Linked DNA regions of Homo sapiens. The protein of the gene in region 5 purifies or fractionates together with the protein of the main gene of each other region. This does not show direct contact. Each region holds a gene or a part of one and is shown on either strand. Other genes may lie near its edges.

Region 1 (4,093 bases), on a different chromosome or scaffold from region 5:
TGTCCCACTGGCGACCGCGGCTGGCGCTGAACGTGATGGCGGACAACTTTGTCTTTGACGGGTCCTCCCTGCCTGCCGATGTGCATCGGTACATGAAGATGTAAGTGGGGCCCCAGAGCTGGAGCGCCGGGGGGAGGGTGCTGGGACCCTGGCTGGCCAGAACTCGCCAGCAGGTCACTCCTGCACCGTGGAGTCCCCTCTGTGGGGAGGCACTTGCTGCCCGGGCCTCCCAGCTCTTTCCCACTTCCTCATTGAGGTTGTGCTGCTACCACAGGGCTGGAAGGGGGGAGAAAGGAATTCAAGCTGGAGCATCCTGCCCTTTGCTCCTGGCTGGCGAAGGCTTCCATGGAGAGAAAACGGAAGGCGCTGATGGGAACGGGTTGCTTTGCTCCCCTTGTGATTTTTTAACTTGGCTTATTTAGATTTACTTAAAAGTTAATCTTTAGATTATTTAGTATCACTTGCCATCAGTTAAATACAATTATTGGAATTCACGTGTTTGGCCACCTGAGCTCACCTCGTCTCTCCCATGTGTTGGGGATCCCCCCCCCAACTCCTGCGCCACAGCTCCGCCTCCCAGGTGGCTGCAGGTGACTCGCCCTTCCAAGTGTAGTGGCCACATCCTGGGATTGCTCCGTGTCAGTGCATCCTGGGATTGCTCCGTGTCAGTGCGCAGAGGGCCCTGGGTTCTGCTGTACGGCCGTGTCCCTGTAATTCCCCCGCTCCTAGTGGCCGTGGAGGCATTTTCCCACCTGTGGCCATCACTTCCTGGGGAGCGGGTCTCACAAGCGTGCATATGTTGTCAGGCTCTCTGCTTCCGTTTGGGGAGGCTGTGCCCTGGGGTCATTGTGACTGAGAAGCAGTTGAGGGTGGTGCTGGGGGCACTTCTCTGGGGTAAACCCAGTGTCTGGATGTGTTCATTCATTGAAAGGTAAAAGCCTTGGTGCTGACTTTGGAAAGTTGTGCTTTAATCCCAGGATCCAGCTGGGGAAAACCGTGCATTACCTGCCCATCCTGTTCATCGACCAGCTCAGCAACCGCGTGAAGGACCTGATGGTGAGTGACACCTCTGCCCGCTGGTTGTGCAGCTGGCGAGACACTGACCCCAAGACTGGCCCCGCAGCCCCTGCACCCTAATGGACCGGGCCATTGCTGACATTTGACACGGTGCTTTTACCCGTGCTGGGAAGCACTGCCTTCGAGTGTGCGAGGGTTGTGACAGGGGGGCCCTGGTGGTGTGCTGGGTTTGCCGTTGGCTGGCTGCGGGGTCCTGCTGAGCCTCTGGACTGTCACTGGTGAAAGGCCCCTGGAAGATTGTTTATGCAGCGCATAGAGGGCAGCGCTTAGAGAGCAGGCACATGAGCACCGTGTGAAACAGCGTCTGCGTGTGAGCTCCTGGTGTGCCATGTAGATTAATTCACAGTATCCTGAGCAAACTCCTGCTTTCCCCACCAGGGCTGGTCCTGCACAGGCGGCCAGAGGAGCGGGTGACAGCCCTTCCTCGGAGCTGGAGCCCCCGGGGTGGCCCCTGGCAAGGCGGAAGGCCTTTGCGAATAGAAGTGGCTGCTCTCTGGGCTCTGGCGCCCTGTGATTACGGGCAGTGACAGCGCCTGCTCTCCCATAGTTGCTTTGAGAGGAGATGAAATGTGGCCAACCTTTGGCCAGTATTGAGACTCACAGAAGCAGTTAATATTTAATGTCTCTTACTGCACATGAGGCACTGTGCTAAGCACTTTGTGAATCTTTCCGTAATTGTGGTGCTGGGAGCTGTGGCGTTGTTTCACGGATGAGGTTATTTGGGGTTCAGAGGTGAACGCTCAGCTGGGGCCCTGCAGGATCGCTGCCCTGCCCTGCCTCCCTGCAAGCCATCACTGTCACTCCGGATCACCCACTAGGAGCCGGCCACTTCCACTTAAGGCTCTCGGCACCTCTGACCTCTGAGGCGGGCCCTTTCCCCTTTTTTGTTGAAGAGGAAACAGTCCTGGGGAGAGCAGAGGGCTTGCTAGCGGGGGGGTGCAGCTGGGAAACGGAGAAGCGAGCACCTGGCTGCTTTGATCTCTGCCCAGGCCCTGCTGCCTCCTCCTGACTGCGGCTCTCAGAACAGTCCCCCTGTACTGCTGTTCCCTCAGACCCCTTGCAGTCCCTAACATACTGCCTCCTTCACTTCTGGGGTCACTGATTGCTCCTATACAACCTGCAGGCTGGGGGCTGCACAGGCAGTGGCTGGCGAGCAGGTCTGGCGCTGCAGCCTATCCCTGAGTAGTTTCTCTGTCGGCCCCTGCAATTCCAACCTCTTTCTCTGTTTGCTGGAGTTTGCTGGTGTGCTGCTGACAAACCTCAGGACAGCAAGTTCTGCTAAAATGCCCCATACAGAGCTGTGTGAGCTGTGGCACCAGCTCGTGGTCACCTCTTGTGAAGCCTCATGCCGCTGACTCCTTGCAGGCATTCAGGAGATGGTGGACAGGGGCAGGCAGCTGCAGAAGGCTGCCCTGTGTGTCTGTCTGCAGATCTGTCTTGTTAGAGGCCCGGGGCAGGCTTTGCGGCGCAGCTGTGCCAGTGGTGGCCTGCGTTCCAGTGGTTATGGAGACACGTGTGCCGACAGCAGCTTTTCCCCCAAATCACAGTCTCTCTCATGTGTCGCTGTTGCTGTGTCTCACTTGGGGCCAGATTCGAGAGGTGCTGTCTTGAGAGAGGAAGCAGGCAGCTGGGATGCAGCAGGTGCAGGAAGTCGGCACCTTCTGTGGCTGGGCCCAGCACTGCCAGATGGAGGAGGCAGTGACACCCTTCGGACACGCTTGGCAGCTCGAGGGGTGCCTGGAGGCCACCATCCATGTGCACTGATGCCACTTGGCTACGTGGGGCGCCCTGACAGCCGCTCTCAGGGCAACCTGGCACCTGCTGGTTGTGGCTCTGATTCCACCACACCCTGACACCAGCAGTGCCCGCCATAGCAGAGCAGGTGGATTAGAGCACAGCCCTCGCTGGATGTTCCAGCACGTGGAGGGTGGCGGGTCAGGGCTTGAGGCAGGGCAGGTGGATTAGAGCACAGCCCTCGCTGGATGTTCCAGAACGTGGAGGGTGGTGCTCACCGGGTGTGGTCACTGCCCACGTGCTGTAGGGTGTGGGCTCGCGCTTGTGAACCCGTTCCTCACCCTCCTACCTCGGCACCCTGGGACCTGGCCCACAGCCTGTGTGCGTGAGGCCCCGGCAGGCTGCAGGACTAAGCTCGTGGTTCTGAGACCTACACATCCACCCTACTGCCCCTGCTAGCTTTGCGTTCCAGAAGCTTTCTGTTGTCCCCACGGCCACCCCCTGCTCTGTGCTTTAGGCCCTGAGGCACTTTGCCCATGTGCTGCAGGGCTGTGCTTGTCCCGTGGTCTCCAACTCTTAGGACAGGCCAGGGCTCTGCAGGCCAAGCTCAGCGCCGTATGCTGCGCCATGGAGTCCTAGCAGCTGGGTGGCAAGCACCACCTCCGGGGCACCAGGACTTGTGCGGCTTAAAATTGAAGGGGCACGTGCAGCAAAACAGACCAGGCACTGCTAGCGCTGCTGAGCTCACGGGGTCCTGGTGGGGGTGGGAACCTCCCTGTGCTGGAACGCAGCACGCTGGGGCCTGAGGCCTGTGGTGACAGAAGGAGGGACCGGGGGATGCTTGCTGGGCCCAGTCATGGCTGACCTGGGGCCACACAGGGATGGGAAGGGGGATGGCAGGGTTGGCGAGGGCTGCCAGGCAGCTGGGTGCAAGGGTATGAGGGCAGGGCCCTCAGTGTGGCTTTCTTCATCAGGTCATAAACCGCTCCACCACCGAGCTGCCCCTCACCGTGTCCTACGACAAGGTCTCACTGGGGCGGCTGCGCTTCTGGATCCACATGCAGGACGCCGTGTACTCCCTGCAGCAGTTCGGTATGTGCCGCACACGGCCGGCGCCTGGGTGAGGCCGCCCTGGAGCCCCTCGGGCATCCAAGTGCGAATCCTGACACAGGCCGGGGCCTCCTCGCCTCCTGCTGCAGATCCTTGCACAGACGTTGAATCAGAGGCTAGCAGCGCCTGCCTCACTTCTCTCCTTGGAGATGACCTGGTTGATTGTCTGGAA
Region 2 (3,632 bases), about 38 Mb from region 5:
TGTTAGGGTGGCATCAGAATCCTGCCCTTTTAAAACAGGTGCAGTTTTTAATAAATTATTTTCATTGTTCTTTTAAAACACGTGAAATAATGTGGTGAGTGGATGGTATACATTTGATTATTATTTTCTAGAGATGCCTACATTTCTTAATGATAGAGCTATAGTTATGAAAAGGCAATGTGGCAAAAGTACTATTAAACTATGGCTCATTATAATAAGAAAATGAAGTTTGGAAAATCGTATATAGAATTTGTGTTAATCCATTCTTGCACTGATGTAAAGAAATACATGAGACTGGGTAGTTTATAAAGAAAAGATGTTTAATTGGCTCACGATTCTGCAGGCCATACAGGAAGGATAGCAGCTTCTGCTTCTGGGGAGGCCTCAGGAAACTTATAATCATGGTGGAATGGGAAGCAGGCACGGCTTATATTGCCAGAGCAAGCAGAAGCGGGGTGTGGGGGAGGTGCTACACACTTTTAAACAACCATATCTGGTGAGAACTCTATCACGAGAATAGCACCAAAGAGGGAAATCCACTCCCATGATCTAGTCACTTTCCACCATGCCCTACGTCCAACTTTGGGGACTACAATTTGGTGACATGAGATTTGGGTGGGGACACAGATCCAAACCATATTAGTTGTTATTTGAAGAGGAATAGTGTAGATTTGAGAAGTATGAAAGTAGATGTCAAATCTTTTCTCTCATCCTAAAACCTTTTTTTTTTGATACTAGGTAAAAGCTGCTGAAACATGTCAAGAGCCGAAGGAATTCAGATTGCCGAAAGACCATCATTTTGATATGATAAATATTAAGAGCATTCCCAAAGGCAAAATTTCCATTGTAGAAGCATTGACACTTCTCAATAATCATAAGCTTTTCCCAGAAACCTGGACTGCTGAGAAAATAATGCAGGAATACCAGTTAGAACAGAAAGATGTGAATTCTCTTCTTAAATATTTTGTTACTTTTGAAGTCGAAATCTTCCCTCCTGAAGACAAGAAAGCAATACGATCAAAATGAAGAAAATCACAGAAATTTCCTATGTGTACTCCTCATCCCTCCTGCTGTATATTTTCTCATTTTTTGCGTAATAAATTATGTTAATTACCAAATATTTAATGCTCTCATTGTGAGGGCATACTCTTAATATTTATTGAGCTCCCTGACTTTTCAAGATTGCCATAGAATATCTTTTGTTTTATTTTAATTTGGTTTAGGCATATTTCATAAGTGCATGTCAGCATGACTGAGCACATCTGTACCTTTATTATGGTGAAAGAGTTAATTTGTTATTTTAGGCACATATACCAACTTTTAAATTGGTCATATTACCCCTTGGGAAATGTCCTGAATCCCTCAACTGAGTTTTACTTTCCAAGTTAGGTGTTTAGTTCATTCTTCTCATGCGATAGTGAAAGTAAAAGCTTTCCTGACCCTTAAGACTGACATTTTCTCGTTAGGGAAAGAGACTCGATAGCAGGGTAGACTAACAGTAGTTCCCAAATAAAGGCACACAGGAGAAAATGAATCAATAGAATCTAATTAAAATTACTACTCCAGGGAATAAGAAGTATTGAGGATTTATTTTATTTTGAATTGGTTTTAAGTATGGAATAATTGTCTTTACAGTTATAAAAAGTAATTAGTGGTGTTTACAAAATGTTGGGAATTTCTGCTTTGACAGATAGGTAAGTCCCATGGGAATTTCTGCTTTGACAAATAGTTAAGTCCCATGGCCTTCAGAGAGGCAGGAAGCAGAAACTTTCAAAAAAGTAACATTTCTCTGGATTTAATGTGGAAATAGAGAAAAATTTAAAGAATAATTAAAAAACCATGGTAGATGAAATTTGGTGATTACATATAGTTTCGGATGTTAATGCTAGTTGAGAGAAGAGAAAAAGATAGCAAGTAGAAGCAGAGAACAGGATCATTGGAAGGGACCTGAGAAATTGCCATTTCATCCATTTTAGCAAATTTAATTAGCATAGCATGTACCAGTACTAGGATCTTGAGTGAGTGTGTGAGTTTAGCTCTGCCTAATATATTACTACTTGGGGGATCTTTGGGAGACTATATCTTCTTGGAGATTGAGTTTCTTCTATAAAATAAGCATAATGCTACCCTAAATGTAAGGGTTATCATGAAGATAAATAATAAAGGACTACAAAGGACCAAGCAAATAGGAATTATTTTTTGCGGTGGAGAAACAAGTGCCTGGGGAGAATATATGACCGAAGATTCTGTAGTTTATGACTTAAACAGGCCCAGAATTTAGTTTTTCAAATCCTAGTAGTGTGTTTTTTCTGTCTTGCCAAAAAGCAGCACACCTCAAAGAAGGGAAAAGGTGTGAATTGTGGGTATATTAGGGTTATTAGTGCTTCCGAGGGAAGATAGGCATCACTACTTCCCAGAGATGCCCCTGGAAATGATATAGAGGATGTTGAAGAATTCAATGTGATGACGGAATGAGGCATTTGTAGTAATGCTGAGAACAGAAAAATGGACTAAGTGGAAAATTTGTAAGCATGACTTTGAATGTAGATTTGTTATGTGAACAAACTACCTAGTTTATTTTTAGTTCAATACAATAATTGTTTTAAGAAAACATGAAATAACTACTCAATATAAAATGCATTTTAAAACTGTAAATAAGTCAAAACTTTATTCTTTTTATCATAATGGTCACTAGCTGAGTCACAAATACTAGTACACTCTTCTGAGCCATCTTCTTTATTCATATCTACATTGTGTGGTTAGGCATCTGTTATGTGGTGTCACATGATAAAATAAAGAACTTCTTCCCATACCATTCATCAGTCCTATACTGCGTTTTATTATATACAGGAGAGCACTTGGTAGCAGTGATGTCAGAAAGTGCATGGAATTTAGATTCAGAAAACAGTTTAGATCTCAGGATCACCACTAGCCATGCCATCTAACATTTTAAAAGTAATTACTGTACTAGGGTCTGATTGAAGTGCTTTACGTGTATTAACTTGCTTAATATTTACCATAGGTACAAGGATAAGTAGCCATATTTTAGAAGCATAGAGAGCTTCAGTAACTTCAAAGATTACTTAGTAAGTGTTGAAGCCTGGATTTAGTCCTGTTAGGTTATTTTCAGAACCTTGTGCTTCTAACTGATACGCTATGTTGCCTTTGTAAGATTATGAGAATTAATGAGATGTCATGCAAAGTGCCTGAGGCATATGAGGACAGGACTACTCAATGCTCACCGTATATGAGAATCATCTGTAGAATTCTGGGAAAATACAGATGTCTGCTGTGAGAGGCTGGTGTAAGTCTGGGAGACGCCTGGGTTCATGGATTCTGGATCACGGGTGTTTAAAAAATATCTATGACCAGTGCCACCAGCATGTTCCAAATTGCTGATCACTTGTGCAGGTGAAATAGCATTCTCTGGTCTAAAGTTTATTGTGAAAGAAGGTAAGGATCAGAGAATAGACAGAAGGGTGGCCTTGAAGGAGTTTGAAGAAAGGAAGCTTTCCAGATGATGGAAGGGAGAAGGAAAGAATTTCAGGAGATTCAAAGATTTGGGGATAGGGTGAGGAGAGGAAGGAAGGAGATTAATAGACTGGACAGGAAAGCCAGGATCCAGGGAGCTG
Region 3 (4,093 bases), on a different chromosome or scaffold from region 5:
ACACGTGTATTTTCTTTCTGTCTTCCCTAGAACAGGAGCTTAATGTGGGCAGGTATTTTTGTTGATCTCATTTATCACCCTATCCCCAGTGCCTGGACAGGGTCTGGCACATGAATGGTGTGTTCTAAATAAATATTTTTAATAGATAAATAAATGAAATATCCTACAAGAGAAAGCTATATCTGGAACTCACCCACCAACAGAACCTAAAAGCCAAAGACCTTTAGCCTGTCTCTGCCTCTGAACACACCCAACCCCGGAGGAGCCAGCAGAGGAAAAAGAGGACAAAGGTGGGGAAGGGAGCAGGTGGTGCCCACCAAGTAAGGAACCCTGAGGCTTAGGCGGAACCTGAGCTGGAGAAGGGACTCATCTAGGAACTGGGTATGAGATTAAAGTTTAGATTTGTCTGGCCTGGATTTTGTTAACACCTAAACAAGGGTTATTCTATTCTTTTTTTTTTTTTTTTTTGAGATGGAGTCTCACTGCCCCCCAGGCTGGAGTGCAGTGGCGCTATCTCAGCTCACTGCAACCTCTGCCTCCCAGGTTCAAGTGATTCTCACGCCTCAGCCTCCCGAGTAGCTGGGATTATAGGCGCGCACCACCATTCCCGGCTAATTTTGTATTTTTAGTAGAGATAGGGTTTCACCATGTTGGCCCCCTGGCTCACGCCCGTAATCCCAGCACTTTGGGAGGCTGAGGTGGGCAGATCAAGAGGTCAGGAGATCAAGACCATCCTAGCTAACATGGTGAAACCCTGTCTGTACTAAAAATACAAAAAATTGCTGGGCGTGGTGGCTCACGCCTGTAATCCCAGCACTTTGGGAGGCTGAGGCGGGTGGATCATGAGGTCATAAGATCGAGACCATCCTGGCTGACACGGTGAAACCCCGTCTCTACTAAAAAGACAAAAAATTAGCCAGGCATGGTGGCGGGTGCCTGTAGTCCCAGCTACTCGGGAGGCTGAGGCAGGAGAATGGCATGAACCCAGGAGGCGGAGCTTGCAGTGAGCCAAGATAGTGCCACCGCACTCCAGCCTAGGCGACAGAGACTCTGCCTCAAAAAAAAAAAAAAAAAAAAAATACAAAAAATTAGCTGGGCGTGGTGGTGGGCACCTGTAGTCCCAGCTACTCAGGAGGCTGAGGCAGGAGAATCGCTTGAACCCCAGATGCGGAGGTTGTAGTGAGCCAAGAGCGTGCCACTGCACTCCAGCCTGGGCGATAGAGCAAGCCTCTGTCTCAAAAACACACATAAAAAAACCTTCAAACGAATGTAAGAATTATTATTTTTTAAAGTACAGCTTTAAAAATGCCCCTTACAAATACATCAGTGTTATATTAAGGCAAACCTACTTCAGAAGCACAAAGTTAATTTCTTATAATTCCAAGAAATATGTGAATGTTAAAAAAACCCCAAACACCCGAAAAGGGATCAAACTCAAGATAGTTTGGAACATTTTATTGCAAAAAGAAGGGCAGAGAACAGTCTTCTTCTTCATACCTGTTCACCACAGACCTCCCTGAGAGCAGTAATTTTTAGCAGCTCTCCTGTGCAAACAAGTCTCATGAAGGAATCAGTGTATGGGCCACAAATACCTTCTCAGTGTGGTTTCACCTAGAATACAAGCACTCAGAAGCACAAATTTAACTGAAGTGAGAAACCAGGCCATTTTGTAGCTTCAGTTTTTCTACCAGTAATATATTAATTTCTTGAAATAGCCTAATAATTTAGTTCTACTATCAAAACAGAAGCCCAATCTGGGAGCACAATTATTATAGAAATCAAACTAATTTCAATCATATTAGTATAGGAATTCATATTAGTATAGGCTGAGGCAGGAGGATCACTTGAGCCTAGGAGTTTGAGACCAGCCTGAGCAAGACAGTGAGACTCCATCTCTAATTTTTTTCTTAAAATAAAGAAATTCAGAGAGAAGAAGGAAGAGGATATGTGTTTATCCAAGGACAAATTTTGTGTGCCTGTACATACAACACAACTATGAACCTTCCTTCACGCAGCTCACAACCTAGTAGTGAGAGGGAACTATGAAAACGTGAGCCCCCACGATGAGGAAAAAGGTGCATATCAGAGAAAAGAAAAATGCTGCGATGATCCAATGGCAGGAGCAGCGCGCATCCACTTTCTTTGTTTTTTTGAGATGGGGTTTCGCTCTGTCTCCCAGGCTGGAGTGCCGTGGCTTGATCTCAGCTCAATGCAGCCTCAACCTCCCAGGCTCAAGTGATCTTCCCATCTCAGCCTCCCAAGTAGCTGGGAATACAGGCGTGCACCACTACACTCATTTACTTTTTGTAGAAACAGGGTCTCACAATGTTGCCAAGGCTGGCATCCTGAAGGGCGGGTGGGGCTTCATCCTACAGAGATGAAAGGCAGAAGAAGCTTAGAGCCCAAAGCAAAGGGGTGGAGGACAAGGGCATCTTCAGAACAGAGTGGCTCGGCTGAGACATCCAGTAGGATGCCACCAGGCAGAGGTGTGGTGGAAAAACACAGGGCCACGGTGAATGCTCACATGTGAGGAGCAAACCACCACAGAACACAACAGAAACACGGTGTACTAAATCAGGCTTCAAATCGCAGCCCTGCAACTTGAGAGCTACCACAGGTAACCCGGAAAGGGAGCACCGACAGCAATGCCCACTGCCTGAGGCTGTGAGATGGACCAGAAACCTGTGCTTACTAACAACCTGCCTTATTCCAGAAGGAATTCAGGAAACACAGAGACACTCACGGTACAGCAAAATAAAGTAAATGTGAATCATATTGGTTGAGAAGAAAGTGAAGAGTCTAAGACTATGTCATAAAGTTTACTTCTACTCTAAACTCTCATTACTGGTGAGCCACCAACCTGACTTTAAATTTTCTAGCAGCTAAATTGAAGAGGAAAATGTCATCAGGTAAACGTTTATAAGATGCAAACAAAACAGAACGGCCACCACAGTTTCTGAGAACACGCGCAGCTCCAGGAGAAATGGGGTGGCCATTTCCTGGGGCTGCCCCGCAGCAGGTGTGTGAGCCCGAAAGCCAGCGTCTCTCAGGGTGAACAGTGACTACGGGCTTCATGGGGCCACATGCCCCCAGCACAAGCTGAGGAAATCTCCCAGGGCAATTCAGGCAACAGGGTCTCACAGTGTCGCCCAGGCTGGTCTCAAACTCCTGGGCTCAAGGGATCCCCCTGCCTCGGCCTCCCAAAGTGTTGGGAGGTCAGGCGTGAGCCACTGCACCTGGCCCTGCACTCACATTAGAGAAGAGGGCTTTGCATCCTGAAGGGCGGTGGGGCTTCATCCCACAGAGATGAAAGGCAGAGGAAGCTCAGAGCCCAAGGTAAAGGGGGGCGCCTAAGAAAAGTGACTCCATTGGGACCACGGTGAGAGGGTCCCGATACACAGCTTGGGTTAAGCCACTGATTTCAAAGTATCTCAGGAATGGTGGACTCAGCACCCATCAGGCAATTCTCTCAAGCAGTCTCCTGGTAGATATTTAGTAGCAGCTGAAATCAAGATTATGTTCTGATAGACACTTGCTGATGGTTAAAGAGCTATATACACTTTGAGGACCAGCTGAACTGGGGCAGGACTAACTCCCTCTGGTGAAAATACAGGAACCCAAACACACAAGTCAGAGCAGGAGGTGTCTCCCCCACCCCCAAACAATAATGCTGACCTTGGATTTGGGTTAAGTGCCTAGCCCAGCGTGTGAGTGTTGAGTAAGTGGAAACCATCATCACCATCATCAGGTAATGGAAAACCATCAAAGCTTTGAGCTGGCTTGTTAGCCAAGAATAGTACCAGTGTATTAGCTACTACTAATACTCACAGCTGACAATTACTGAGCACTTGCTCCGTGCCAGGAATCACGGAAACACCTCGCATGCATTTCCTCAATACTCCCTCCCAGTAACGGCGAGGACACAAAACTGGTAGAGCCAGGACTGGAATCCAGGCAGGCCCCAAAGCACTCCAGTGGAGCCTGCCAAGGTGGGCAGGCTACCATACTAATGCGGTCCAGTATTTGACCACCACTCCTATTTGAGCAAGTTTAACAGAAAACCTAAAACTAAACCTAAAATCTAAAAATTAGA
Region 4 (4,093 bases), on a different chromosome or scaffold from region 5:
CCAGAAGGCAGGAATTTTTGTCCTGCTTGCCTACTGAAACATCCTCAAGTGGCTTGAACAGTGCCTGGTAATACACATTTGTTGAAAAAATAAAATGTTTACAAGGCTTTCATGTACAGATATGCAAGAAATACAAATAATAAATTTAAGAGCGAGTATGAAGAGATATTTATTTGGTCAGTCTTTAGGGAAGTGGACATATTTACAATCTCCATCTCTTCCAGGTCTGTTTACAGAGACCTCTACCTGGGGTTTGGAGTATAAGACGAAAATAAAGTTGTCTACTCTTTTCCATTGTTCCTTTTATGTGTATCTTTACAGTAAGGCTCATCGGGTGGATGAGTGGCTATGGTCATTTAGTACTATCAAAACTGCATGATCATTCCTAACAGATTTCATTAGCTACAGTAGGGAGCTCAGGTATGAGTCCAGGACCAGCATTATCAGTAACACATGGGAGCTTGTTAGAAATGCAAATTTTTAAGCTAAACTCCAGATCTACTGAAACTTCGTGAGTGTGGACCTAGTTACCTGTGTATTACGAAGCCTTCCAGGTGATTTTAATGCACATTAAAGAGCAAAGAACAAAAAATTTTAACAGGTACTAAGTACTTTTTTGATAAAATACCTACCTTATAGTCTAAGTCATTCTTTTTGAGATGTAGCTAAAAATTTACACACCCAATTACATAAAAAGATATTTACAACAAAATTTAGTGTAACCTGTCACATAGTTGTAATTCATCATCTAGTGATCACACAGCAAAACCAGTCTAGTATAAAAATATTTTTTAAAGCTATATACTTACTTTAATGTTTCAGCAAGAAAAAAGCTCTGCTGTACATCATCATGTGTAGGAGTAGAGGAATATACATCTTTGACTCCAGAAAACCCACCATTAACTCGGCAATACTTTTCAATGGCCTATGAAAGAGATCAGACAAAATAAGCAATTCCGTAGAATTTCAAGTTTTGAAGGACAACAAAACTTTGAAGGACAATAGTCAAAAGCTCATAAAGATTTGTATGAAAATTTGATGGCTTAAGAATAATATATTATCAAAAGGAAATATTCTCATACTGGAAAAATTAACTCATACGAGAAACAGGATGTTTCCTATAGAACTTCTCTGTCTCCAAAACTCTTTAATCTTTTTAAGACATCTTATATTTTCCTAACTTAGAAATCAAATTTAGGCTATTTTTTCTAAATGAGGGGTCTGTCTGGCAAAATAAAGGTCCATTAGTTCTAACAAATCAAGATGGAGGTCAGTTTCAATTAACAATTTTTAATGCAATTTTATCACTTCCAAGGACAAACAATAACCCACAACATGCTAAAAAATATTACTTAGGAGCACTCTATAGTAATAGCGGTAAGAGATAATATTTACTAAATACATACCATATGCCAGACATTGCATTATCATAATCCTATGAGTTAGCCATTACAGGTGGTACCAACTGGCAGAAAGAGCCCACCTACTACAATAATAATTACAATATAAAGAGTTAACAATTATAAGGTATTTACTATGTGCTGAATGCTGTTCTAAGAGCTTTAAATACAGTCACATTTGAATTTCAGAACTCTATGAGGTTAACAGCCTCACTTTTCAGATGGGAAAACTGAGGCACAGAGTAATTTGCTCTACATTATTAACTACTGTGCTTTACTGCTTGACTGAGAGTTAAAATTCTTACTCTTTTTGCATCTTTGGGCATGCCTAAATAAAATATACTGAATCAAATGGAATCTATTCACAACCTTATTTTTTAATTCAAAGCAACCAAACAGTCTGCTTATGCAGGTACAGCACAGTCCAGAATTCAACCAATCATGAAAAGTGGAAAGCACATGTGGTAGTTTTGTTTTTCTATTCTACCTAACCCTGCAAGGTCATCCAATGAAGGCATGGTTACTTAACTAACCATCGCTGTCTGCCATGGCTTGTTGTTCCTAGTCTTGCTACTTTTCTTACTCTTCTGGGCTTCTCCTTCCTATGAAAAGCTAATTAACATTAAAAAGGTGTTTATTTAATCAATCTGCTCATTTTATAGCTCCATTTTGATTATAACTAAATTTAAGGGGTTTGGTGCTTTTCTCTAATATATTCTAAAGAAATTTTGGATACAAGAGTTTTTAAGTACTTTTCTTCACAATAATCATGTGTCTTCACCACCACATGAACTATCAAAATGGTTTAAGAATAATAAGAAAGTAGTGGGGAGGCATGACTAATCTTTAAGACATTTAAAGTCATGAGGGCAAGTTTGGAAGTTTGAATATGTAAACAGAATAGCTAAGGCTACAGAAGACACGCTATACTGCTATTCTGCCTCACCCAGCCTTCCCTTTGCTTTCTTCGCACCCAAGAGGAGAGGCCAATGGTGATGCATGAGCAAATACTATTTAAGATATGACACCGCCTCTTTTGCCTCCATTCCTCCCTCTTCTCATCACTTCCACTGCACACTTCTGAAACTTGAATTTAGAGTATAACTACTCTAGTTCTTGTTCTTGACCGATTATACATTGAGTTTGTGTTTGTGCATATAGGCTACAAAAGCAAAATTCTACCTCCTATAATTCAAATTTAGACAGACATGGGCTAAAGTTTGACCCTGTCACACCTCTCCTTAACAGACAAAAGTAGGGCCATACTTGAAGAAAGCACACAGGAAAAAAGGACATTAGGAAAAGGATGAATTATCCTAAAGTATTCCTCAATGACAAAAAGTGCTTCTGCCACCACTTTCCACTCCTCACGTGATTCAGACATATCCCCCTCATTCCTGTAAATAAGGAGCATTAAATATCAGGGGACATTCAAGTGAAACAGATTCATTATATGATTATTTTACCTATTTCCCTTACATGAAAGAGTGCTTAATTTACGGAAGCATTAGTAAGCCACTGCTAACAATAGAAGTGTGTGTGTATTCTATTCCCAAACCACTGTGGCAATAGTTTGGCTGTCTTCTCAACTGTGGCAGCACCCTCCTACACAGAGAATTTCACTAGTAGCTGTGCTCCCAATTCTGGAGCCAAGGGGCCAAGGAAAAGCAGCATCAATAAATGCTGCATCTGTTCCTGTCCTGTGTAACCACTTGTTTCCATTAATATGCTCTTATTGTTAAAGTCCAGCAGGACTATCTAGGTCTGAATGACAGGTGAAAAATAAGTGTACTCCCCTTAGTTCAAGATCTCACATTATTCCTAGGTTATGGCTGTGGTCTCCCAAACCCACCAATTTGTGGATTACAATCAGATCCTTTTGCTTTGTTACTCCCCACTGAAAAAAGCCTTCAGGAGTTCCTTCCCCCTTATAAAACATTTAGCAGTTCTGTAAGGAATTCTCAAAAGTCAAGGAGCTTTTGCAGGTAGAAGATGCTAAGGAAAAAAGAAAAGTAAGATCTGAAGGGCTTTTTGGATAAGCAAAGAACTTTCTGTTACCATTTCCCATATGACAGCACTTAACGCAGTAGCTGACAGAAGTAACTAAGAGAGTGTGTATTACGGGGAGGGAGTTGTGCACACGTCTTATTTCCTGAACAACTAAGAACCTTTGATTTGGTGTGTAAGGCTGTCTACATAATGGCTCCAATCTTCTCTCCCACTTTGCCACTGTGAAACGTTCGCTTTACATAAACTGGTATACATCTTGCCTTAAAATATATCTCATACATTCCTGTCTGGGCAATTTACCAGCACTACTGACCTCATTTGGGATGTCCTTAGTCATTCTATCTAGATTGTAAGCTTAAGTTAAACAATTTGAATACGAATAGTCACCATAATTAGTGCTATTTATCACAATTAGTAAATCTCAAAGAATAAAACAACCCCTTACCCTGGGAATAAGCTATACTTTCATAAAAGACTAATAGTTTTTTCCTCCCTAGGTACTGATAGCTATGGATTCCCTGAAAGACTTTAAGAGTAAACCACTTGCTTCCTTTACTTAACTAACCATTAAAAATTCCTCCTTTGAAATATATATATTTATATATTTTTAATATATTTTAATATATATTTAATATATATCGTAAGATTTATTTCTACTGCCCAGAAACTTAAATTGACTAAGA
Region 5 (4,093 bases):
TAATGTATTTCTTGAATTCTCATACTACTTCCAGGTTTTTAAATAATGTCAGGGTAATAATGCTTTCTTTTTAATGAACAAGGCAAGAAAATGACCTCATTATGAGGGATAACTATGGAAGCTCATTTTGTCCCATTTTTCCCACTTAAGTAGTATATAACAGATTTTGTTCCTTTGGAAAGCAATACTTTTAATGATAAATCTTGCATTAAAATGATGTAGATCAAAAATATTAAAAATAGTTTTATTCTTGAGCTTCATAATCCAGGAGAAAGTTTATATAGTATTCTCTAGTGATGCTCCAAAGCATTTGCACCCTTGTGGTTCAGTATAAACTTAGAAATTTTAAGAGGTTGGTAAAAAAAGGCCTTTCCTCCCATATGGCCTGAGAGGATACACTGCTGATTCTTCTCAAAATTAACAGGGCTATTGAACTTCCTCTTTCTTTAGCATACATTCCCCCACCCCCATTGAAATAGAAAAAGGGAGACTTAAACGGTTTTTTTGAATTGAGAAACTGTTTTCCTGAGAATGGAAAGACTTTAGTAAAAATGCGTTGCCTTTTGAAAATATACTGGGGGTTAGGATCTTTCCCTTTGGGATCCCATTTTCCACTCTCGTCTCTGTCTGATTCAGAAAACAATTGGGGTGGCTTTCAAAGAGTAGGAGGTTTTTTGGTCTCAGAAGTTCTCACTAGTGCTTTGAGAGATAAAGAGTGAAGTATTCTTCATCAGCAGCATCTTATCATCCACCAGACTTCACCATGTCCCTCTCGTGGTGTGTAGGCCCTGCTGTGCCACATTCAAAGGAGTAATTTCCCCAAGGCAGCTGGAACTTTACATTGTGTTGGAGTCTTGTACCGCGACCGGTCAGAATAAACATGAAGCGTTATCGTATTGAAAATACTCCTTTACCAAGGAAATGGAATGGTTAAAAGATACTGATATTTCTAGAAAACGACATGCATTCCAGATTGTGTAACTAAGAGAAATCTAACTAGGCAATAGAGAAAGCCTGATCTCAGAGGGTGGAGAAGAAGGAAACAATTAAAAAGAGAAAACAACTAATAGGCCCAAGGGAAAGGTCTCTGTTAGAAACAGTTTTCTGTCAATTCACTTTAATCTGAATTGAAATTTTTGTTTGTGAAATTTGTGTGATATATTTCTGTGCAGAACTGATAATGCTATCAAGAACCACTGGAATTCTACAATGCGTCGGAAGGTCGAACAGGAAGGTTATCTGCAGGAGTCTTCAAAAGCCAGCCAGCCAGCAGTGGCCACAAGCTTCCAGAAGAACAGTCATTTGATGGGTTTTGCTCAGGCTCCGCCTACAGCTCAACTCCCTGCCACTGGCCAGCCCACTGTTAACAACGACTATTCCTATTACCACATTTCTGAAGCACAAAATGTAAGCCATTCCTGTGAATCTAGTTTAATGAGAGAGACGGTTAGTTTAGCTCCAGGTAATAATCATACTTTGCAGTTGTATACTTTTCAGAGAACTTTCCTGAGCATGATCATGGCCAGTCTTCACCTATGCCCTTTGAAGTAGATAGGGTGTAGGTATGGTGTGTTACCCCTGGTTTATGTCTCCAGAAACGAGGATGGTAAGCGCTTTGCCCAGGGTGACACAGCTCATAGAGATAGTGCTGACTAGAAAACGAGCTGTCCGATTCTAAATTGCTGCTTCAAATCTAATTTGAAGGCAACCTTTGAATGTAAATTTACTTAAGGTACTATTGAAGAATAGGGGAATGGAGTCGCATTTGTAGATGTAATGTTTTTCTCTTCCAAAACGAAAAGGGAAGGTAGTATTATGTTTAAAGAGGAGAGAGTTTGACACTGAAATTCAGTGGTTATGGTATGTTTCATTCTGGCAGTGATCAGGCAGACATGTCTTAATTTATTCACTCAGTAAGTGTTTACCTTCTTACTCTGAGTCAGGAGCAGAACTTTGTGACATTCATTTTCTGATGTCTCCTTTTAGTCTCCGTTGGATCAGTGTGATCCCTTCCTTATTTCTAGATATTTATATTTAGGGAAAGTGATAATCCATAATAGGTGGAAAAAGAAGAAGAAAGAGGAAAAAAATCGAGAAACTTTAATCTTAAGAATAACAATATTAAATGATAAAACTTACCCAAGAATAGAGAGCTCATATGCAAATTATATGCAAAACATGTTCATAAATAGTTTTTATTCTTCTCTGTCCATGGATTTGACTACAAACTTTACAGAAAGGTCTCAGATGAATAAATTATCATAAGAATTCCTGTGCTTTTTATTAAAACTCAAAATTATTCCAAGAAAAATATTTTTATTTACAAACAGCTGGTGCCATCAATTTTTCCCATAGAAACAATTTTGAAACATTCATTAATGTATTTTATAATATATTTTTTATTGTTTTTTTCATTGTGTTTTTCTCTAATTAAGGAACACTTCCCAAAATTTAAAGTGCTCATCAACACCTCCCAAGGATTTTTCACCATGTTCCTTTAGCTGTTTAGCCATTTTAAAGGCCTGGCTAAATTTCACATTAAAAGGTTTTAAAAATTTGTTTAGTGTATTTTATCAGTAAAGTGTTTTTTTTCTCTCAGTCCCAGAACGAAACCTCAGGAAGCCAAGTCCCCTGAAGCATATGTAGCCCTGAATGACGTGGCCTTTGTTTTGTCTTTTGCATCTAGGTCTCCAGTCATGTTCCATACCCTGTAGCGTTACATGTAAATATAGTCAATGTCCCTCAGCCAGCTGCCGCAGCCATTCAGGTAAGATCATTGATCATTCACTGTTCAAAGCACCACTTTTAAGAAATGCTTATTTCTTTCATCTAAACACATATTTTTACCTGAGCAACTAAAGTAAAAAGGAAAGGGAACATGGAGAGGAGAGCAGAGTCTTGGCCAGCAATCTATTAATCTTGTCTTCTAGAATGAGTTTGCTCTGGAATTTTCTGATTCTTTGATGTTGCAAGGTGAAATAACTCATCAGTCAGCATCCACTCTAGCCTGAGATTTCACATCACTCCCTTAAGTCTGAAATAACATTCACAAAGATTTCTGCAGGAGCCAAATTTGGTTGGTGGTGTTGTCACAGTGAGGCTCTTTGGGCTGTGCGGCACCTCATGACCATATTGGCTACACCCATTGTATTTGCAGCTTCCAATCAGACCTTTGTCTTTATTTCCCTTACTTTGTAATTTCAGAGACACTATAATGATGAAGACCCTGAGAAGGAAAAGCGAATAAAGGAATTAGAATTGCTCCTAATGTCAACCGAGAATGAGCTAAAAGGACAGCAGGTGCTACCAGTAAGACTGTCATCATGTGCTTGAATGAGGGGATAGCAGCTTTGCCTCAGTTTACCTAAGCGCTCTTCTCTTCTAAATATTACACTTAGCAAGGCTCCATATATCCATTCAGAATGTCTCAACACAAGAAGTTGCTTGTAGTAAAATGTAGTTGGTATCAGATTATATGCTGATTAAATTGGAAGCAGTCTTTTTGTAATTGCAATAAAAATGCAATATCCACTTATGATTGTTATCATCAATTTTTTTCTTCAGAAGGACTATAATCAGTTTAAAGACTAGCAAAGATAAAATGAATGAAAATCTGCATTTTCTACAGAGCTATGTATCTATATGGTACCATTTTGGTTTTTTTCTATTATTTTGTTAACCTATATTTTCATATTTTATAATTTCAGACATGATTTGATGCATGTTCAGTATATACATGTAAAAGGTTATATATAAAACCTCTTCATAAATAACATTAGCTGCTCTCTTTTATTTGCATGTGTGAAAGTTATGTGGGCCATTACTGAATTCTGACATCTTTAGCGACTGGGCAGCCAACTGGGATGGCTCCTTGTGCTTTGCAACATACATAGTTAACCAACAAAGACAATAAAAGAGAAGTGATGCCCAGTAGGTATTCCTAGGGGTAAATTTATTTTTTGTTAAATAATAAGATGTTTATGTGCACATGCTAGTTCGACCACTTTTTAACTTTAGTTAATGTTTTGCAATTTCTCCTGTTGTGTGGTCATACTGTAAGGAGACTTCTGTTAATTTGCTCTTCTGCTTTCCT
Region 6 (4,093 bases), on a different chromosome or scaffold from region 5:
CTGGGAGGGTTCTTCCCTTTTTAGACTGATTCTGTGAAAATACAAGCAATGAACGTTAAGTATTTGCCCAATTGTGAGACTATCTGTAGAAAAAATTTCTAGAAGTGAACTGCTATGTAAAACAAAGAGTAAATTCATTTAAATGTTACAGATACCATTTCATGGAGCAAACCATAACAGAGAGTGGGGAGCAAATCACACTTAAACACTGTGATTCTTCCAGACTCTATCCTAAGCCCTTTTCCTTCTTACCCTTTACACACACACTGGGCAATCCTATTGACTCCTGTGGCCTCAGTTACCATCCATGTGCTCAGTATTCCCAATCATTGGCCTTAGCCTAGATCTATCTCTCAGCTTCAAAGCCAACTTACTGTCCATCCCACAGAAACATCAAACTTAGCTGCCCAAAGCAAAAATTAGTAACTCTGTAAAACCCATAAAAGTGTAAAACAATTTTAAAGTTCTGAGTAACTATTTCTGAGAATCCAAAAGTAAATCAGAACTCAAATATCTTATCAACTAATGAACAAAATACAGAATATCCATACAGTGGAATATTATTCAACAATAAAAAATGAATCACAGATACTATTATATCACAACATAGATGAGCCTTGAAAACTTTATGCTGGGTGACAGAAGTCAGTCACAAAGGACCACATAGTATAAGATTCCATTTATATGAAATATCCAGAATAGTCAAATCTAGAGGGAAAACACGTTAGGGGTAACACTTACCTAGGACTGAAGCGGGGAGGGTTAAGACAAACAGAGTTGACTGCTAAGATAATAGTTATGGGGCTTTTTGTTGTTTTTAAAGTGGTCATGGTGATGGTTATGATTATGCTAAAAACCATTTGAGTTGTACAATTTAAGTGGGTCAACAGCTTGGTGTGTAAATTATATTTCAATAAATGTTTTTAAAAAAATAAACCAGAAAGTTAAATTATAAAAAAGTACTCAGCAGAATAAAAGGGAAACCATGCTATAAATATGAAGAGATGTGAAAACCAAATACACTGTGGTTTCTTAAAAATTTGCTTAAGTGATAACCCTATATTTATATCCCTTACTCATTCTACAGTCTTTCCCACCTTTATTTAAAGACCCCCTTATCATAATTGGTTTGGTTTGACTCAATAACAAGTCTAAGCAAGATAAAGCTACAGTGGAATAAATGGTAAATGACCTGGGAACTTCCCCAAAAAGAGAAACAGAAAATAAAATTAAACCTGTCTTGGACAAAAAAAAAAGCAAAAAAGGCAGCTAGAAGGAAAAAGCAACTTCACAGAAATGAAGTGCCAAAGGTAGTATCTATTACTGGAAAGTCACCTTGATTCCAGACACAAACGAAACACATCTCTCCTCTGGGTAGGGAGCTCTATAATGTATTCTGCAGTACTAGAGACACGACCAAGAGGACCTCTGAAAATGTTCTTCCTGAAAGTGAGTTGGCTGATGGGGAACGCCACATTTAAATGAGCAAAGGCTGTGAGACTGAAGAGGAGCTTCAAGAATTTGGAGAAGTCTTTCACATGGTAATTTATAATACAGAAATATAAATGTAATAGATGTAAACAGCAAGATGTCAAGGAAGACCAAATTTATTACAAAGGAATTAGCCATCGTTTAGTGAAGAATAGTAACAAACTACTCTATGAAGTGAAAATGAGAACAATTCCACTGAAGGAAAAAAATGGAAAATGACATTAAAAGCTTTAAAAACACACAAGCCTCTGACCCAGTAATCCCCACGTTTAAAAAACTTAGTCTAGTTGTTATGCAGCAATTAAAAAAACAAACAAAAAACTCAATCAAAATAATAATTAGTATCTGAAAAGATTTATTTTGAGGCCGGGCACGGTGGCTCACACCTGTAATCCCAACATTTGGGAGGCCAAGGCAGGCGGATCACCTGAGGTCAGGAGTTCAAAACCAGCCTGGCCAACATGGTGAAACCCCGTCTCTACTAAAAATATAAAAATTAGCTGGATATACAGCTTTGGGAGGCTGAGGCAAGAGAATCACTTGAACCCAACAGGCAGAGGTTGCCGTGAGCCGAGATCATGCCACTGCACTCCAGCCTGGCCGATAGAGCAAGACTCTGTCTCAAAAAAAAAAAAAAAAAAAAAAAAAAAGCTGGGTATGGTGGCACACATCTGCAGTCCCAGCTACTCAGGAGGCTGAGGCAAGAGAATCACTTGAACCCGGGAGGTAATGGTTGCGATGAGTCGAGATCACACGACTGTACTCCAGCCTGTGTGACACAGCAAGTGTTTTTCTCAACAACAAAAAAATTTTTAAGATTTTTAAGAATGTTCAAAGTGCTATTTAAAATTGTAAACAACTGAAAACTATCAACAATTGGACACTGGTTAAAAATATGATAAATCTATGTAACAGAACATTTTGCCATTAAAAATGATGTATCAGAATATTTATTTTTTTGAGATGGAGTCTTGCTCTGTTGCCAGGCTGGAGTGCAGTGGCGCGATCTTGGCTCACTGAAACCTCCGCCTCCCGGGTTCAAGCAATTCTCCCGCCTCAGCCTCCCGAGTAGCTGGGACCACAGGCATGCGCCACCATGCCCAGCTAATTTTTGTATTTTTGGTAGAGATGAGGTTTCACCACGTTGACCAGGATGGTCTTGATCTCTTGACCTCATGATCCACCTGCCTTGGCCTCCCAAAGTGCTAGGATTACAGGCGTGAGCCACTGCACTCAGCCCAGAATATTTATTAAGGAAAATGTTCACAGTATATTAAAAAAACAAAAACAAACAAACCAAAAAAAACACCTTATTTTATATATAACATCCCAATTTTCTTTTTTTTTTTTGAGATAGGGTCTTGCTTTGTCACCCAGGATGGAGAGCGGTGGCACAATCATGGCTTGCTACAGCCTCAACCTCCCAGGCTCCAGCAATTCTCCCACCTCGGCCTCCCTAGTAGCTGGGAATACAGGTACGCACCACTGTGCCCAGCTAATTTTTGTATTTTTTGTAGAGACAGGGTTTCACCATGTTGCCTAAGCTGGTCTTGAACTCCTGGGCTCAAGCAATCCACCCTCCTCAGCCTTCCAAAGTGCTGGAATTAATAGGCATGAACCACTGTGTGTGGTCATTGACTCCAACTTTGTATATGCAAAATTGTACTTTTGAGATAGAATCTTGCTCTGTTGCCCAGGCTAGAGTGCAGTGGCACAGTCATGGCTCACTGCAGCCTTGACCTCCTGGGCTCAAGTGATCCTCTCACCTCAGCCTCCATAAGTAGCTGAGACTACAGGTGTGCGCCACCATGCCTTGATATTTTTTTTGTTTTTTATAGGGATGGGACCTCGCTATGTTGCCCAGGCTGGTCTCTGACTCCTGGTCTCAAGCAACCTTCCCACCTTGGCCTCCCAAGGTGCTGGGATTATAGGTATGAACCACCACGCCTGGCCAAAATTGTATTTTTGAAAAGCTTAATTTTAGCCAACAGATTTTTCTTATTTTTCACAATTCCACAAATAAATAGATAATACTTTTATCTATTTCTTTTAGTAGAGACAGGATCTTACTATGTTACCTAGGCTGGCCTCAAGCCACCCTCCTGCCTTAGCCTCTGGAGTAGCTGGGACTACAGGTGTGCACCACTGTGCCTGGCTTACATATTACCTTTGTTTTTTTGGAGACAGAGTCTTGGTTTGTCACCCAGGCTGAAGTGCAGTGTTGTGAGCTCAGCTCACTGCAACCTCCGTCTCCCAGGTTCAAGTGATTCTCCTGTCTCAGCCTCCTGAGTAGCTGAGATTACAGGTGCCCACCATCATGCCTGACTAATTTTTGTATTTTTAGTAGTGATGGGGTTTCACCATGTTGGCCGGGCTGGTCTCAAACTCCTGACCTCAGGTGATCCGCCCACCTTGGCCTCCCAAAGTGCTGAGTTTATAGGTATGAGCCACCATGCCCGACCATGTATTACTTTTAATTCAGGAGTTATTAAAACAACTTGACCTCAAATTTGGAAGCTTTGTAAGAGTCTAGCTACAGAAACATAGCTAAAGGCTGGAAAAAATGGCCCATTCCTGTAATCACAGTGCTTTGGGAGGTCAA
Region 7 (4,093 bases), on a different chromosome or scaffold from region 5:
TTACATGTCCTTTTTTTTTAGAAAAGGGGGTGGCAATTGGTCATAACCTGCTTCAGACAGGCTCTATTGGATTTAATTTTTGATTATTTCTCCCTCAAAAGTAGAAACAAACATACATGGCAAAAAATACAATTAAATATACTTTCATCCTATAAGCAATCACAGAGCAGTACATGAAAATATAAAGAAATAAACCGGATCAATATTTTAAATTATAGTTTATAACTCTTCCATTGAATTCTTAACTAGTCAGTATGCACGAATGGCCTATACCAAATATAATTTCAGCTCTGATATTTCAAAATACATTGGGTCCCTTAGGTTGAGCTAAATAAGAAACAGGAAACCTAACAGGTCTGCCTTTAGGATCTTCTCTCAATCCAGTAATAGAAACCCATACACCAACTTAGAAATTACAGACACTAAGATAAAGTGCAAACATAGGGGGTCCAGTAAGTATAACATGGGGTGCTGCTTTCTGACACCCACAGCATGAAATTCTATACAGCAATCCCCAGAGGTTTAAAGTCATGTTGGGTTACAAACCTAAAATCTGAGTTACTAAAACTGGCTTTTCTGACACATAGTTAAGGCCACATTCTATTCTTTGTTTTATGCCCAGCTGCGATTTGTTTCTGGGTCGAAAATGAACACACGTAATCAAGTTATAAGTAAGAAAATATGTCTCAATCCAGTTTGTTTTTCAAACAAAGTTAACAAACGCCCCTGGCATTTTGCTAATTTACCTCTACTGGTTATATTGAGGTATCAGAGGGACGCTCATAGGACCCACCTGAACCCTCGAAAAGCAGGATTGTCTCATTATTTCCCAAGACCATATGCGTGAAGACCTTGCCTACAACATCTATTAACTGTTTCCTAGGTATCAAGCACAATCCTACTCATAAATATATTACATAAAATATGTAATCTCAACAGCACCATGGGGTAGTATGCCATTCACATTCTCCTTTTACCCATAAGGAAATCCTACTAGCTGAGTTCGTGGAGCTGTACTATGAGCAAAGGCCAAGTCCAGCAAAATTCAGTAAGGCAGGAAGGCACCACAGAGGGGATAGAAGGAACTCCACTGAGAAGCCGGCAATGGGGCAAAGCTCTCAGCCCAGGAATGTTATGCGCCTGGGTTACAAGGATGGTGCCACCTGGGGTAGTTCAGAACTCAGGTGTTGAGGGAATAAGGAAGAAATTCAGTATTTTGAGTATCCTCTGCCTCTCAACATTTCATCTTCCTATTTGCCAGAGAAGCTTTTTACCAAGAGAAAGCAATGAGCATACAGTTTAATGATTTCATTCTTTTTCTTTTCTTTCTTTTTTTTTTTTTTTTTCTTGAAATGCAGTCTCAGTCTGTCACCTAGGCTGGAGTGCAGCAGCAGCACAATCTCGGCTCACTGCAACCTCCGCCTCCCAGGTTCAAGCAATTCTCCTGCCCAGCCTCCCGAGTAGCTGAGATTACAGGAGCCTGCCACCATGCCCAGCTAATTTTAGTATTTTTAGCACAGATGAGGTTTCACCATGTTGGCCAGGCTGGTCTTGAACTCCTGACCTCAGGTGATCTGCCCACTTCGGCCTCCCGAAATGCTGGGATTACAGGCGTGAGCCACCATGCCCAGCCGATTTCATTCATTTCTGTTACTTCTAATTTTGAAAGACATCATTTGGTATAGAAAGTTAGAAGTTGGAACTTCTAAGATTAAAATAAAGCAGTTAAAAAAATACAGCAATAGACAATCCATGCTGAAAAGTCACTTCAACTAAAAAAGTCACTAAACCAAAGCTCTACTGAAAAGGCCGAGACTGACTTTGCATTTCTCCACAACTAGGAAATTCACTAGAATTTTGTAGCACAGCAACAAAATTCAGACCAATGCTGAAGGCACTGACCTCAGTTCTATGTGTTTATGTATTAACCAAACACTAAAACTGACCTCTGTTATGACATCTCAGAAAAAAGCTAATTCTGGAGCTGTCCTTTAAAGACCGGGTGTGGTGGCTCACACCTGTAATCCCAGCACTTTGGGAGGCCGAGGTGGGTGGATCACTTGAGGTCAGGAGTTCAAGATCAACCTGGCCAACATGGCAAAACCCCGTCTCTACAAAAATTACAAAAATTAGCCAGGCGTGGTGGTGCACACCTATCATCCCAGCTACTGGGGAGGCTTGAGCCTGGGAGGCAGAGGTTGCAGTGAGCCGAGATCAGCCACTGCACTATGGCCTGGGCAGAGTGAGACCCTGCCTCAAAACAAAACAAAGCAAAACAAAAAACAAAAAGCAAACAAAAAAGCTGTCCTTCAAAGAAAACTCGATGCCACAAGGGCGAAAATGACAGGCTTACCGATTAATATTGGCATAGAAAATAACCATAAACAGTAGTAGAGAGAGGAATTTCACTGAGTTTAATCTGGTAAATATTGGACAAGAATTGAATTTCAAGGAGACTTTGCACATTGGGTCATGGCAGAGTATAAAAATCCCACCTCCACAGCACACCCACCCAGAATCCTTGGGCAAGTTATTTAATCTCATCGTCCTTCCGTTTCCTTTAAAATAAAAAAATTTTTTTAAATGTCAATTTAATGGGAATTTAATGTGAGGCCATGTGAGTACAACATTTTACATTTCCAGGGACTGCAAAAATGTTAGTTCCTTCCCCCATCATTTAGTTTGAAAATTCTTAGATAATTCTTTGCTGGTAAATTCCAACAGAATAGTTAGCACACAGGTTCCACACACACAAGTTCTAGAATCAGGAATCTGAAGCACCACAATGAAAAGAACATTTAACATCTTTTAAAAATGTTTAATGTTATCAGAAAGATGTTTGGTATATGTGTTCCATGCATGCTCCTGCTGGTTCTATTTGAAAAAGAAGTTTTTACAGTTATCTGTTGTCACCATATTGTAAAGGTAAAATCTCTACTTCTTCGCTCTGAATATTTTACTACTTAAGATTCTAAGAGGTTTTCAGTCTTTTTAAATATATTAACAGTCCATTCTGCCAAGAAATCAGTTTCTACACAGAGATAAAAACCAAAGATTAGTTAAATCCATTCCTCCCAATTAGAACGAGTATTGGAGTGATCAGAGAAAGAGAAGAGGGGGCTGTGTGTGGTGGCTCACACCTGTAATCCTAGCACTTTGGGAGGCCGAGGCGGGCAGATCATCTGAGGTCAAGAGTTGAAGACCAGCCTGACCAACATGGAGAAACCCCGTCTCTACTAAAAATACAAAATTAGCCAGATGTGGTGGTGCATGCCTGTAATCCCAGCTACTCAGGAGGCTGAGGCAGGAGAATCGCTTGAACCTGGGAAGTGGAGGTTGCGGTGAGCCGAGATCGCACAATTGCACTCCACCCTGGGCAACAAGAGCAAAACTCTTGTCTCAAAAAATAAAAATAAAGAGAAGAAATGTAATTGCATTTTTTGCTGTCCCCTCACCACCTCTTCATCACTTGGTCCAAGGAAACAAGAGAAAAGTGTTTTGATCACCAAGATGGAAAAGGAATCCCAATTCTTTTACTCATTTAATGCCTCAAATTTCACGTGTAAAGGGTAAAAACCTGGTCTACAGCTTATCTTGGCTAATAAGCTAAACACACCATGTTAATGAGAGAAGCTAACATTGTCAAATGTCATTTTGTTTTGCTACTTCCTGCAGAAGAATACTGTTTGTTTATCATATGTCAAATAGCTTAATAGAGATACTAACTTACATCTTTAAAATCCCCCACAACTATCTTGTGACTAGTTTTATTCCCTTCCACCTTATAAAACCAAGCCTCCATCCAATTAATCCCACCTGGCTAGAAACAGCTATTCTGGAAGAAATGTGATAAAGTTCTGCTTTTCGGTGAAGAGAGAAGAGAGTGTGCCATTCGAGCACTGTGAGTTGATCAGAGCAACCTGGGCTGGAAAGCAGGCAAATCAGAGGGAGGCCTGAAAAGGTCAGAGGGAGGGTTGGAAGTGATTATTCATCACACCAGCCTGGTCCTTTTTTGCCTACACCTGCCAGGAAACTCAAAAAGTGTTTGCATCCGTGGAATACATACCCATCACCTTCTGAGTCTCACTTCCTA

The links.
Region 1: the proteins of MYB (region 5) and CLPTM1L purify together in Homo sapiens (co-immunoprecipitation; one large-scale study listed by IntAct). This does not show direct contact.
Region 2: the proteins of MYB (region 5) and NDUFAF4 purify together in Homo sapiens (co-immunoprecipitation; one large-scale study listed by IntAct). This does not show direct contact.
Region 3: the proteins of MYB (region 5) and PDCD6 purify together in Homo sapiens (co-immunoprecipitation; one large-scale study listed by IntAct). This does not show direct contact.
Region 4: the proteins of MYB (region 5) and MAN1A2 purify together in Homo sapiens (co-immunoprecipitation; one large-scale study listed by IntAct). This does not show direct contact.
Region 6: the proteins of MYB (region 5) and UBE2B purify together in Homo sapiens (co-immunoprecipitation; one large-scale study listed by IntAct). This does not show direct contact.
Region 7: the proteins of MYB (region 5) and BASP1 purify together in Homo sapiens (co-immunoprecipitation; one large-scale study listed by IntAct). This does not show direct contact.

The regions. Positions count from the first base shown.
Region 1 is NC_000005.10:1,334,867-1,338,959, reverse strand, and holds part of CLPTM1L (lipid scramblase CLPTM1L), read left to right. Parts: coding exon 1-100; intron 101-977; coding exon 978-1,056; intron 1,057-3,785; coding exon 3,786-3,903; intron 3,904-4,093. UniProt on the Homo sapiens protein: Scramblase that mediates the translocation of glucosaminylphosphatidylinositol (alpha-D-GlcN-(1-6)-(1,2-diacyl-sn-glycero-3-phospho)-1D-myo-inositol, GlcN-PI) across the endoplasmic reticulum (ER) membrane, from the cytosolic leaflet to the luminal leaflet of the ER membrane, where it participates in the biosynthesis of glycosylphosphatidylinositol (GPI).
Region 2 is NC_000006.12:96,888,498-96,892,129, reverse strand, and holds the end of NDUFAF4 (NADH dehydrogenase [ubiquinone] 1 alpha subcomplex assembly factor 4), read left to right. Parts: intron 1-738; coding exon 739-1,026; 3' UTR 1,027-2,815; downstream 2,816-3,632. UniProt on the Homo sapiens protein: Involved in the assembly of mitochondrial NADH:ubiquinone oxidoreductase complex (complex I). May be involved in cell proliferation and survival of hormone-dependent tumor cells. May be a regulator of breast tumor cell invasion.
Region 3 is NC_000005.10:274,288-278,380, reverse strand, and holds part of PDCD6 (programmed cell death protein 6), read right to left. Parts: intron 2,370-4,093; exon of another isoform or gene 1,441-2,369; intron 1-1,440. UniProt on the Homo sapiens protein: Calcium sensor that plays a key role in processes such as endoplasmic reticulum (ER)-Golgi vesicular transport, endosomal biogenesis or membrane repair.
Region 4 is NC_000001.11:117,499,687-117,503,779, reverse strand, and holds part of MAN1A2 (mannosyl-oligosaccharide 1,2-alpha-mannosidase IB), read right to left. Parts: intron 926-4,093; coding exon 810-925; intron 1-809. UniProt on the Homo sapiens protein: Involved in the maturation of Asn-linked oligosaccharides. Progressively trim alpha-1,2-linked mannose residues from Man(9)GlcNAc(2) to produce Man(5)GlcNAc(2).
Region 5 is NC_000006.12:135,191,152-135,195,244, forward strand, and holds part of MYB (transcriptional activator Myb), read left to right. Parts: intron 1-1,172; coding exon 1,173-1,407; intron 1,408-2,686; coding exon 2,687-2,767; intron 2,768-3,204; coding exon 3,205-3,309; intron 3,310-3,808; exon of another isoform or gene 3,809-3,930; intron 3,931-4,093. UniProt on the Homo sapiens protein: Transcriptional activator; DNA-binding protein that specifically recognize the sequence 5'-YAAC[GT]G-3'. Plays an important role in the control of proliferation and differentiation of hematopoietic progenitor cells.
Region 6 is NC_000005.10:134,381,522-134,385,614, reverse strand, and holds part of UBE2B (ubiquitin-conjugating enzyme E2 B), read right to left. Parts: intron 1-4,093. UniProt on the Homo sapiens protein: E2 ubiquitin-conjugating enzyme that accepts ubiquitin from the ubiquitin-activating enzyme E1 and transfers it to a E3 ubiquitin-protein ligase. In vitro catalyzes 'Lys-11'-, as well as 'Lys-48'- and 'Lys-63'-linked polyubiquitination.
Region 7 is NC_000005.10:17,269,325-17,273,417, reverse strand, and holds part of BASP1 (brain acid soluble protein 1), read right to left. Parts: intron 1-4,093.